Regions from separate parts of the Homo sapiens genome. Here region 2 is linked to region 1. A link means that fine-mapping ties the variant in region 1 to the expression of a gene that starts in the linked region. Tissue or cell type: whole blood. Region 1 holds a variant in brackets; the other region holds the start of a gene. All regions are shown on one strand. Distances are between the middles of the regions.

Evidence for each region. PIP is the estimated chance that this variant, and not a neighbour inherited with it, causes the effect.
Region 2: it holds the start of TRIM58, and the variant in region 1 is the best candidate, but not a certain one, in a credible set for the expression of TRIM58 in whole blood (TOPMed, PIP 0.50).

Annotation. Positions count from the first base shown.
Region 1 is chr1:248,245,141-248,250,712 of GRCh38, forward strand. No RefSeq gene overlaps it. Among named protein-coding and RNA genes, the nearest start is that of OR2M4, 17 kb to the left of the region's middle. The variant C/T (reference allele first, on the strand shown) is at 2,571.
Region 2 is chr1:247,854,662-247,860,233 of GRCh38, forward strand. It overlaps TRIM58 (tripartite motif containing 58), which reads left to right and starts at 2,526. Exons shown (of 6, transcript NM_015431.4): 1 at 2,526-3,005. The coding sequence starts at 2,586. RefSeq lists a cis regulatory region at 439-1,003.

The sequences.
Region 1 (5,572 bases):
CATAAAAAAAAATGTACTACATTTAGAGGACAATATGCTAATTGGACTGAGCTGTAAGAAATAGCTAGCACACTGGAGACATTGTAATACATTTGTTATCCAAAGGTGCAAGATATACCTTACCAATATCAGCGGTCTTCCACAAAAATAAAGGTTGTAGGAAGTTACATGCCACTTAAAGTCTCATGGGATATCCAAAGCAAAGGAAAGATTACTGCATCTTGCCCTCTCACCAAAAGATAGATACATGATAGATAGATAGATAGATAAATAGATAGATAGATGGATAGATAGATAGATAACAGATAGACAATACTTGGTATACCTTTTTGGGTTTTGACGGCAGCATATACCACACCTGGATTATTATTTAGATCTATATAGTGGGTTACGCAAAAAGATACTGACTTTGAGTAACTCCAATAACAGAAAGAGGATTCACTGCAATCCAGGATGCAGTGCAAGCAACTCTGAAACTTGGACCATGCAAGTGTTAGAATCTATAGTATTAGAGCTATTATTATTGGGAAATTACATTGTGTGGCATTTATTGTATGTTTCCATGGGATAATTCAAATGAAATCAGTAAAATTCTGGAGTAAAGTCATGCTATCCACATTAAATATTTTAGACCTTTTTATTTTTAATTTTTACTTTCTGTGAGTACATAGTAGGTGTATATATTTATGGGGTACATGAGATATTTTGATACATGCATGCAATGCATAATAATCATATCAGATAATTGAGGTATCCATCATCCCAGGCATTTGTCCTTTATGTTACAAAATATCCAGTTATACTTTTAGTTATTTTTAAATGCACAATTATCATTGGCTATAGTCACTCCGTTGTGCTATCAAACACTAAGGCATTCATGCTTTCTAATTATATTTTGTACCCATTAAACATCCCCACTTATTCTTCCTAATCCCCACCCCCACTACCCTTCTCAGCCTGTGATAACCATCCTTCTACTCTCTATCTCCATGAGCCCAGTTGTTTTAATTTTTAACTCCCACCAATAAGGGAGAACATTTGAAGTCTATCTCTCTGTGTCTGGCTTATTTCATTTAATATAATAACCTCCAGTTCCATCCATGTTGTTGCAAATGACAGGATCTCATTATTTTTTACGGCTGAATAGTACTTCATTGTGTATATGTACCACATTTTCTTTATCCATTCATCTGTTGATAGACACAGTTTGCTTGCAAATCTTAGTTATTGCGAATACTGCTCCAATAAACATGGAGTGCAGATATCTCTTCAATATACTGATTACCTTTCTTTTGGATGTATGCCTAGCAGTAGAATTGCTGAATCATGTGGTAACTCTGTTTTTAGTTTTTTGAGGAACCTCCAAACTGTCCTTTATGGTGGTTGTACTAATTCACATTCCCACTAGCAGTGTAGGAGGGCTCCCTTTTCTCCACATTCTGGCATAATTTGGTATTGCCTTTCTTTTATATGAAAGTCATTTTGCCTGGGGTGAGATGATATCTCACTGTAGTTTTAATTTACACATTTCTTATGATCAACATGTTGAGCACCTTTTCATATACCTGTTTGCCATTTGTATGTCTTCTTTTGAGAAATGTCTATTCAACTCTCACCCATTTTTAAATTGGATTAATACATTTTTTCCTATAGAGTTGTTTGAGCTCCTTATATATTCTGGTTATTAATCCCTTGTCAGATGAGTAGTTTGAAAATTTTTTCTTTCATTCTGTGGGTTTTCTCTTCACTTTATTGTTTCCTATGCTATGCAGAAGCTTTTTAAATTGATGTGATCTTATTTGTCCATTTTTGCTTCAGTTGCCTGTGCTTGTTGTGTATTTTTACATTTCAAATTATTGTGAGCCTTGGGAGTAATATCTTATCTCCCATTATTTAAAATTCATGACCAACGTAACCCTGATTTCACAATCAAACAAGAAGCAAGCAAAAAGGAACTTAAAAAAAAACCCTCTACACTTTAACTTCATACCTTCACTTTGTAACTTTTTGTTGTTTCAGTTTATATCTTATTGTACTGTCTATGTCTTACAAAGTTGTTGTAGATATCATTTTTGATTGGTTCATCTTTTCATCTTTCTACTTAAGATATGAGTAGTTTACACACCACAATTACAGTATTGTAATAGTCTGTCTTTTCCTGTGTACTTACCATTACCAGAGAGATTTGTACCTTCAGATGCTCATTAATACTTTTTTTCTCTCATGTTGAAGAACTCTCTCTAGCATTTCTTGTAAGACAGGTCTGGTGTTGATGAAATCCCTCAGCTTTTCTTTATCTGGAAAAGTCTATATTTATAAAGAATTAATACAGAGAAGGAAAGGAAGTTAATAAAGCGTGTTTTATTGAGTAAGCTACTACAGAGGGCAAATCCAACCTAATCCTGTGGCTCACTTCTGAGAAAGTATATAAAATGCACACCCTTGAGAATCATTCTTGCCTGTGAGAGAGGAGACAGAACTTGATTTTCACCAGGGTTGTTCGGGGGCTTCTCTGCTGGCGATTTTTATTCTCTGGCACTTCTAGTCTGTGTACACATAGACAGAGTGAC[C/T]TTCTATGGAGATTGAAGGAATGTGGTTGCTGCTCAGAGTGCCGGCTGGAAATTCATGTGTAATTAGAAACCTCAACTGGCAACATGCGGCGTTTTTTTTGTGTGTGGGTGTCTTCATCCAAATAAGTCAATTGTAAGACATGAGATTATTGAGATTATTAAGAAATGTGCTTACAGATGTCCTATTAGATGACATTGTGGAAATACTGTTAATTGTATTTGTGTGATAAGGTATTGTGGTTAAGTACAAAGGAAGAAACTATGAATTCAAGATTAGGTATAATGAAGAAGTGATAAGATGTCTAAACAAATGGCCAGGCACGGTGATTCACGCCTGTAATCCCAACACTTTGGGAGGCCAAGGCAGGCAGATCACAATGTCAGGAGTTCAAGACCAGCCGGACCAACAAGGTGAAACCCATCTCTACTAAAAATACAAAAATTAGCCAGACATGGTGGCACACACCTATAATCAGCTACTCAGGACGCTGAGGCAGGAGAATCGCTTGAACCCGGGAGGCAGAGGTTGCAGTGAGCTGAGATCGTACCACTGCACTGGGAAACAGAGCAGGACTCCATCTCAAAACAAAACAAAACTCCACAAACATTAAATGCATTTAGATTTGTTGGGTGGATAAATATGAAACAAGATTTTTTTGATCCTTGGTAGTTCCTTAATTTTTTTTTCTTTGATGTGGTGCTCTATTTTTCAAAAATTAAAAATTTTTAAAAGAAATATGGGTATTTCAGCAAAAGAAAAAAAGGGAGTGACAGAGGGAGGAAGGGAGGAAGAAACGGAGGAAAAAGAGAAACACTCCCCGAGATGCTTTCTTGCACATTATATTTTTCACTGTGGCTGTTCAATGGAGATGTCCCGAGGAAACCCAGGCAGGGACTCTGTCTTCCTAGGTCCCTGAAGCTGCACCAACAAGCAGTACATGTCCACACTTCCAACACTGCTACAAAAACAAGAAGTAAGCTTCATTTGGATGTAAGACATTATACATTATTGTGACTAATTTTTATTACAATTAATCGGCCTCAAATAATACCACTTTTTGAACAAATGTAAATCTACTTAATTTTAATAAAATTATTGAGAAAATATTACTTATAGGGAGATATATTAAATTTAGTTCCTACTGAACAATGTACAAAAATCAACCTCAACTGTATTAAAAACACATATTGAAAACACAACAAATATTTGTTTTAAATTATAGGCAAATGTTCCCGAGCAGACATCAATTTCTTAAGCAAGTCATATAAAGTAATAACTATAAATACAATCATTGACAAATTTGACCAAGTTAAAAATTTTAAACTTTGTCCATTGATAGATACCTCAAATAGGTGGAAATTCTAGTTATGCACTAAGATGAAACAGTATACTAAATAAATATACACCTATATTTAATAATATTATTTGATTCAACTTCATATATATATATATATATATATATATACTGAAAAATAAGAAAAATATATGAGCAGTTATTTCACAGAAAAACAGACACACGTGGCCAGTAAACTTCTGACATAATTGTCAAGAGTGGTATTTTATCCCCATTCCAGCAGAAAAAATAGAAAACTCAAACAATACTGAATGTTGTTGAGTATGTTTATTAGCAAAACAATTTAGCATTGCCGACTAGAATGAAAACCGATATTGGCACTTTGGAAAAGAAATCAACACCATGTTTTATATTGGACTTTTACATTCCAAACAGTCCAACCATTCTATTTCTCTCCATAGAACCCAAGAAACTTCTTCCAGTATACTAGGAGTCACACAAAGGCATGTTCAAAAGGTTTGTTTCTATGGTAGATATATAAAATTTCTGTGTCTAAATAATATGATAAATAATTTTTCTTGTATTCACAAATTGGAATATTTTACAATAGCTGAAAGCAATATATTTGAGCAATAAAAAAATAGAATGAATCTTAATAATACCATAAAGCAAGCTCAGGAAGATTACTTGCTGCACAATAGCTTTTCTAAAATTTTATGAATCATTAAAGAATCAAAACAAAAGATGTTTAACATCTACATAAAGCTAAATGAACATGAGAATGAGAGGATGTGGAACATTGGGTTTAGGATGCTCAAAATTTTGGCAGTAGAAGTAGTGAAATGGAGTAAGGTGAGGCCACATGTTATATGTAAATTGCTATTGAGTTCTTAGATTTTATGTTGGGTGAAAGGTTCAAATGTACTTTTTAGATAACCAAAATTTAACTACTACTTAAAGGATATTTAAAGAGTCTTTGCTTCCATAATGACAGGCAATTGTAACACTTAGATGCCTATTTCAGTATGAATACAAATAGAATTGTGACATGGTAAACTGAGTGATCCAACTAGTCTTTGAAACACAAGTTTCAAAACAAACAAAACAATTTTGCTTTGTTTTGTTTTATTTTATTTTTTTTTTATGGAGAGGCCTTCCTTTACCTTCCTCTTAGTGTGTGAGCCTTCCTGTGGCCACATCTATAAAGACATGAGCTTGCCTGTGAATTTAGGCAGAAAGTACATAGAGGGAACACAGGGTATTTCAAAAAGCTCCATAAGCAACTAAATTGAGGAGTGAAGAAAAACGGACAAAAATAATGAGATTTTAAAAGGGTCTTTTGCAAATCTCACATATTCCCACTCATATATGGGAACTAAAAAAGATGATCTCATGGAGTTAGAAGATAAAATGATAGATACCAGAGACTGGGAAGAGTGTGTGTAGAAGGAGATGAAGAGAAGTTGATTAGTGGATACAAGCATACAGTTAAATAGAAGGAATATGTTCTAATGCCCGGTAACAGAGTACAGTGACTATACTTAAAAACAATGCATTATACATTTCAAAATAGCTAGAAGAGAGAACTTGAAATATTCCCAAACCCTAGAAATGATAAATACTCGAGGTGACAGACATCCCAAATCCCCTGACATTATCATTATACATTCTATGCATGTAACAGAATGTCACATGTATCCCATAAGT
Region 2 (5,572 bases), 390 kb before region 1:
CCAAGGTGGGGAGATTGTTTGAACCCAGGAGTTTGAGACCAGCCTGGGCAACAGGGCGAAACTCTGTCTCTACAAAAAATACAAAAATTAGCTGGGCGTGGTGGCGGGCACCTGTAGTCGCAGGTACTTGGGAGGCTGAGGTGAGAAGATCACTTGAGCCTGAAAGGTAGAGGCTACAGTGAGTCAGGTTGTGGCACTACACTATAGCCTGGGCAGCAGAGCAAGACCCTGTCTCAATATATATACGTGTGTGTGTGTGTGTGTGTGTGTGTGTGTGTGTATTTCCAACATGCCAGGACCTATATTAAGTGTCTACTATCTATTAGCTCGTTTAATACTCTGAAAGGCCTTATATGAATGACACTAACACCTCTTCACTGCACGTCAGAAGAAATGCAGGGCAGAAACGCGGCACAGCTTGCCTCAAGCTTCTCAGCAAGTGCCACAGCCCTTAGTCCGGAGCCAGAGTCTGTTTTTCTTTGCTAAGCCTTCTGCTCTTTAGCTTTTTTCTCTAATGCCACATCTTTCGTGTTTTGCTAATACAGATCCATGTGTGTTCTCCAAGAATCTATTCGCTTTAATTGCGCACTTAACCTTTAGGCCTCAAGATCCTCTGCTCTGCCTGTCGCCAGAGATCCAGCCCAAGAGTTTGTCCTTATAATGAAGACCCACAAACCCCAGAGGATCCCCAAGGACCTGAGTCATCTGGCCCCGCCTCTTGCTGCAGCCTTATCTGCTGCCACCATATTCTGGCCCAGCTTGCCAGCCTGCCTGGCTTCTCACTGTCATCTGGGTATGTCTTGCTCCCACCTGCTGAAGTTTACCTTGTACCTTTCATGGCTTCTGGGGGCACGGCCTTGCGGAGCCCCCCTTCCCGCTGGCCAGCTTGTGTTCACCTATCAGAGGTTTGCTCAGAGACCTCAGGTGTCTGCCCCCGACCCTGCAGCCTCATTCAGAGTCCTCTGTTATATTCCTGCAGGACTGGTGAGCGACCTTCCTTGCAGTTATTGGTTTGTAATTATATGTTTGCATGATTTCATATCCACCTCTTCTAGTTGATCTTAAGGCTCCTGGAGAAATGGGGTCCCACCTCTTTTCCTTAACATGTGTATTTTCAGTACCCGGTGCAATGTCTGAGACTCCTGGCTACAAACAGACACAATGTGTGCTCAGGGACAGATTGATTTGCCACAGGTACACCCCACCATCACTTCAAACTCGACCATACTAAAGTTATTTTGCACAGATGCAGACACTGCCTCAGACTTGTCGACTTTCTGGACGACATTAGAGACTTTAATGTACTTTATCCTGATTCAGCCTTCCACTGGATGAAGTAACATACTCTGTCAAATCATTTTGCTCCTGTCTCAGCCTCCCCCATCTGACAGGTACACCACTGAGAGGCTAAGCTTGAATTATTCCTCTGATGAGTATCTCTATAGCTTTGTCATCTCCAAGACTGGCTTTGCAACAATCCTACAACATGTGTGTATTCCTTGTAGGATCCTCATTGAACTAGGCCAGATATTTATTTAAATATTTAGAATTATTTTTGGCTGGGCTGTAAACCTATAGTTACACACACCTATGCAGGCATCTTCCCGTGTCAGGCGGTGTCTCATTTCTTTATCAAGAGGTAATTAGTGCAAGAGAAAAAAATGAAGTTTGAAAAAAACATTTAAAAATTGATTATGCCATATAAAGGGGGAAAGCCTTTTAAGAAACGATTATGGCATGAGAGGACCATGGAGTAGCTCAGTAACAATGGAAGGGGCTCGGAGGGTGGAAGGCGGGCGAGGGATGAGAGATCACCTAATGAGAACAATTTACGCTATCACAGCGATGCCTGCGCTAAAGCCTAGACTTTATGCAGTGTCTCCATGTAACAAAACTGCACTGGTACCCCAGAAATCTGCACTAAATCTATATAATGATGATGGAGGCTGGGCGCGGTGGCTCGCGCCTGTAATCCCAGCACTCTGGGAGGTCGAGGCGGGCAGATCACCTGAGGTCACGAGTTCAAGACCAGGCTGACCAAAATGGTGAAACCCCGTCTCTACTAAAAATACAAAAATTAGCCGGGCATGGTGGCGGGCGCCTGTAATCCCTGCTGCTTGCGAGGCTGAGGCAGGAGAATCGCTTGAACCCGGGAGGCGGAGGCTGCAGTGAGCCGAGATCGCGCCACCGCACTCCAGCCTGGGCGACAGAGCGAGACTCCCTCTCAAAAAAACAAAAACAAAAACAAACAAACAAAGATGGAAGGAAGGAGGGAATTTAGCAATTCTCCAGATCTACTGCCAGTGAAAATAGCATATGAGGAGGGATTCCAGTTAGAAATGCCCAGTTTCCTGGGTGTGTGTGTGACGGGGGCGGGGAACCACAACGTTAATTTTATCCCCGACATAGGGAGCGCCTGAGTGGTGGCTTTTCACCGGGTGTGGCTCGTCTGAGCTCTTGAACTGAAGCCAGCGGACACCACCCGTCGGCGCCTGCTTTCCTGGGGCGTGGGCTCCTCCCCCTGTGCAGACCGCGAGGGGAGACGGTGCGGGCGGCCGGGAGCGCAGCCCTCCGGGAGGCGGGTCATGGCCTGGGCGCCGCCCGGGGAGCGGCTGCGCGAGGATGCGCGGTGCCCGGTGTGCCTGGATTTCCTGCAGGAGCCGGTCAGCGTGGACTGCGGCCACAGCTTCTGCCTCAGGTGCATCTCCGAGTTCTGCGAGAAGTCGGACGGCGCGCAGGGCGGCGTCTACGCCTGTCCGCAGTGCCGGGGCCCCTTCCGGCCCTCGGGCTTTCGCCCCAACCGGCAGCTGGCGGGCCTGGTGGAGAGCGTGCGGCGGCTGGGGTTGGGCGCGGGGCCCGGGGCGCGGCGATGCGCGCGGCACGGCGAGGACCTGAGCCGCTTCTGCGAGGAGGACGAGGCGGCGCTGTGCTGGGTGTGCGACGCCGGCCCCGAGCACAGGACGCACCGCACGGCGCCGCTGCAGGAGGCCGCCGGCAGCTACCAGGTGAGGCGCCCCCCGGCGGGGGCTGCGGGCGCTGCGGTGACCGGGAAGCGGGCGACAGTCCGGAGCGGAGCCGCCGAGGCCACCCGTCTCCTGAGCGGCTCCCACGGCCGCTCCCCCCACCGCGCGCCGTCCCCCCCGCCCACGCGGCTCACTCAGTGTGGGTCTCTTTGCCTTGGCTGTGGTAACCCCCTTTGCGACACACACCCATTATTTTACACCGTCCGCCCCTCCCCCAAGCACTCTCCTGTCGTCGAACTCGCGCTGGGCTGGTTTCTCCCGATGCGGATAGTCTGGTCCCTCAGCTGGGCTCTGGTCGGGAGGGCTGTGTGGTCCAGTTCATTCTTGGTAACAATTGTACGTCTATATCGTAAACTTGCCATAATAATTCTCATTTGTGCAATGCTTTGCTTTTGCACAGTGTTTACATTAAATGAGTGTTGTCAGCAAAGCAACCCTCGGGTTTGGGCGTTGTTAAGAAGAGTGTCGAGCTGGGTACGGGTTCCGACCCCTCCAAAGCTCAGGTGCACGTGCCTCCTGAAGTAGGAGCGGGTGGCTCTCCATCAGCAGGGATTTGGGGACTTAGGATTCGAACATCCTCAATGAAGAGGTGCTTCATTTGGGGTGTAGCCCGGGAAGCTTCAAAGAGAAAGAAGAAAAACAAAATGGGAGTATTTGGTCCCCAGAGTGGCATCTGTGAAATTGTGTGTCGATTTCTTCCTACTGGTGCCCTTCAAAAGTTCTTGGATGTTTTCTGAACACACTTGAATCCCAGCATGTAGAACAACTGCCAGCACAGAGGAGGTCTAAGTCGTCTTTACTGACAGATTTAACCAAAGGACTGTCAGTCGCGCTGTAGTGCATTGCAAATACTTTCTTAAAATTTTTATTTATTTATTTTGTTTGTTTTAAATTAAGGTTTAGGATATTTTCCCCTTCCTTCTCTACCAATATCTCTCTTGGTATTTCTTCTTGATTTTCGTTGTCATTTGCGAGATGTAGGTACTAGTACTAGGTAATTTCTAGCTAAACTTTTCTGGAATGTTCTTGCCTTTTTAAAAAAAGTCCAGAAAGAGGATTGGTAGTAACTTTTTTTTTTTTTTTTTTTTTTTTTTGAGACGGAGTCTAGTTCTGTAGCTCAGGCTGGAGGGCAGTGGCGCAATCTCGGCTCATTGCAACCTCCGTCTCCCGGGTCCTGGTGCAAGCAATTCTCCTGCCTCAGCCTCCCGGGTAGCTGGGATTACAGGTATGCGTCACCACACCCGGCTAATTTTTGTATTTTTAGTAGAGACGGGGTTTCACTGTGTTGGCCAGGCTGGTCTTGAACTCCTGACCTTGTGATCCATCCGCCGTGGCCTCCCAAAGTGCTGGTGTTACAGGCAGCCCAGCCTCTAGTGTAATATTTCTAAAGGTGTTCTCCATATTTTCAGTAGTTCTTCGGTTAAATACCAAATAAATATTATCTAAACTCCTGAGCCTCTCAGTGAAAGCTTTCTAGGGCCCTAAGTTATGTTTCCATAGCTCTCTTGTCTTAACCAGCCAGGAAACCCAGCAAATTTAGCCGAATCACTGTTTTCCTAACTGTGCTACATCTCCTTGCTTTTGCTGACAGTTTCTTTGGCCTGAGGGAGCTTTTCTTTATCTACAAGTGTCAAAGTGCTCCGTTCTTTGTAAACACCAAAACACATGCCACTTTCCCCACTGAGTCAAATGGTATCATGAATTCTACTGTTATTTTATATATAACAATTATAATATTCTCCTTTTAAAAACAATTGATGTGTATGTAGGATTTATTGAGTAACTTTGGGAATATAATTTTTTAATTAAAATCCTGTTTATGTATGTATCTTTGTGAGTATTTAAAATACACATATTTACCTCTAGTGAGCGCCCTATCATTGAAGGAAGATTTAGTTCTCATTGTATTTTTACTCATTGCAAGGTTTACAACATACTGTGTTTTTTCATATAAAATATGATAACCTACCAAGTTCCTTCTGACCTAATAATACTACTAATACTACAATAATAAACCCATGCTTTATCATAAAGTAACCAATAACTTCAAGAAGTTGAAGTTATATAGAGAAATACAGAATACAGTTATATAGAGAAATATATAAATATAGAGAAATGTATAAATATAGTTATATAGAGAAATATATGAAATATAGAGATATAATAGCATCACTCTTCATCCAAACACCAATAGATGACATTTTATCTAATATCATTCTCATTTACATCAGCCCAGTTTTAATATATTCATTACCAGCACATTTTTTTTCAAAATTCATGTTGTTTTGTAAAATATTTTTATTCATTGGACATTATCATTGTATTTCTAGTCATTAAACATTCTGTAACATCTTATTTTAATTCTATCCAGTTAATATAATTTTTTTCTCCCCTATCTTTAATGTTTTAGTTTAGTTATGCTATCGTATATAACAATGCAGTGAGCATACTTTTAGATAAATATTTGATTGTATCTGGTATTAAAATACATTTAAGGAGCTAGGCCCAGTGGCTCATGCCTATAATCCCAGCACTTTGGAAGGCCAAGA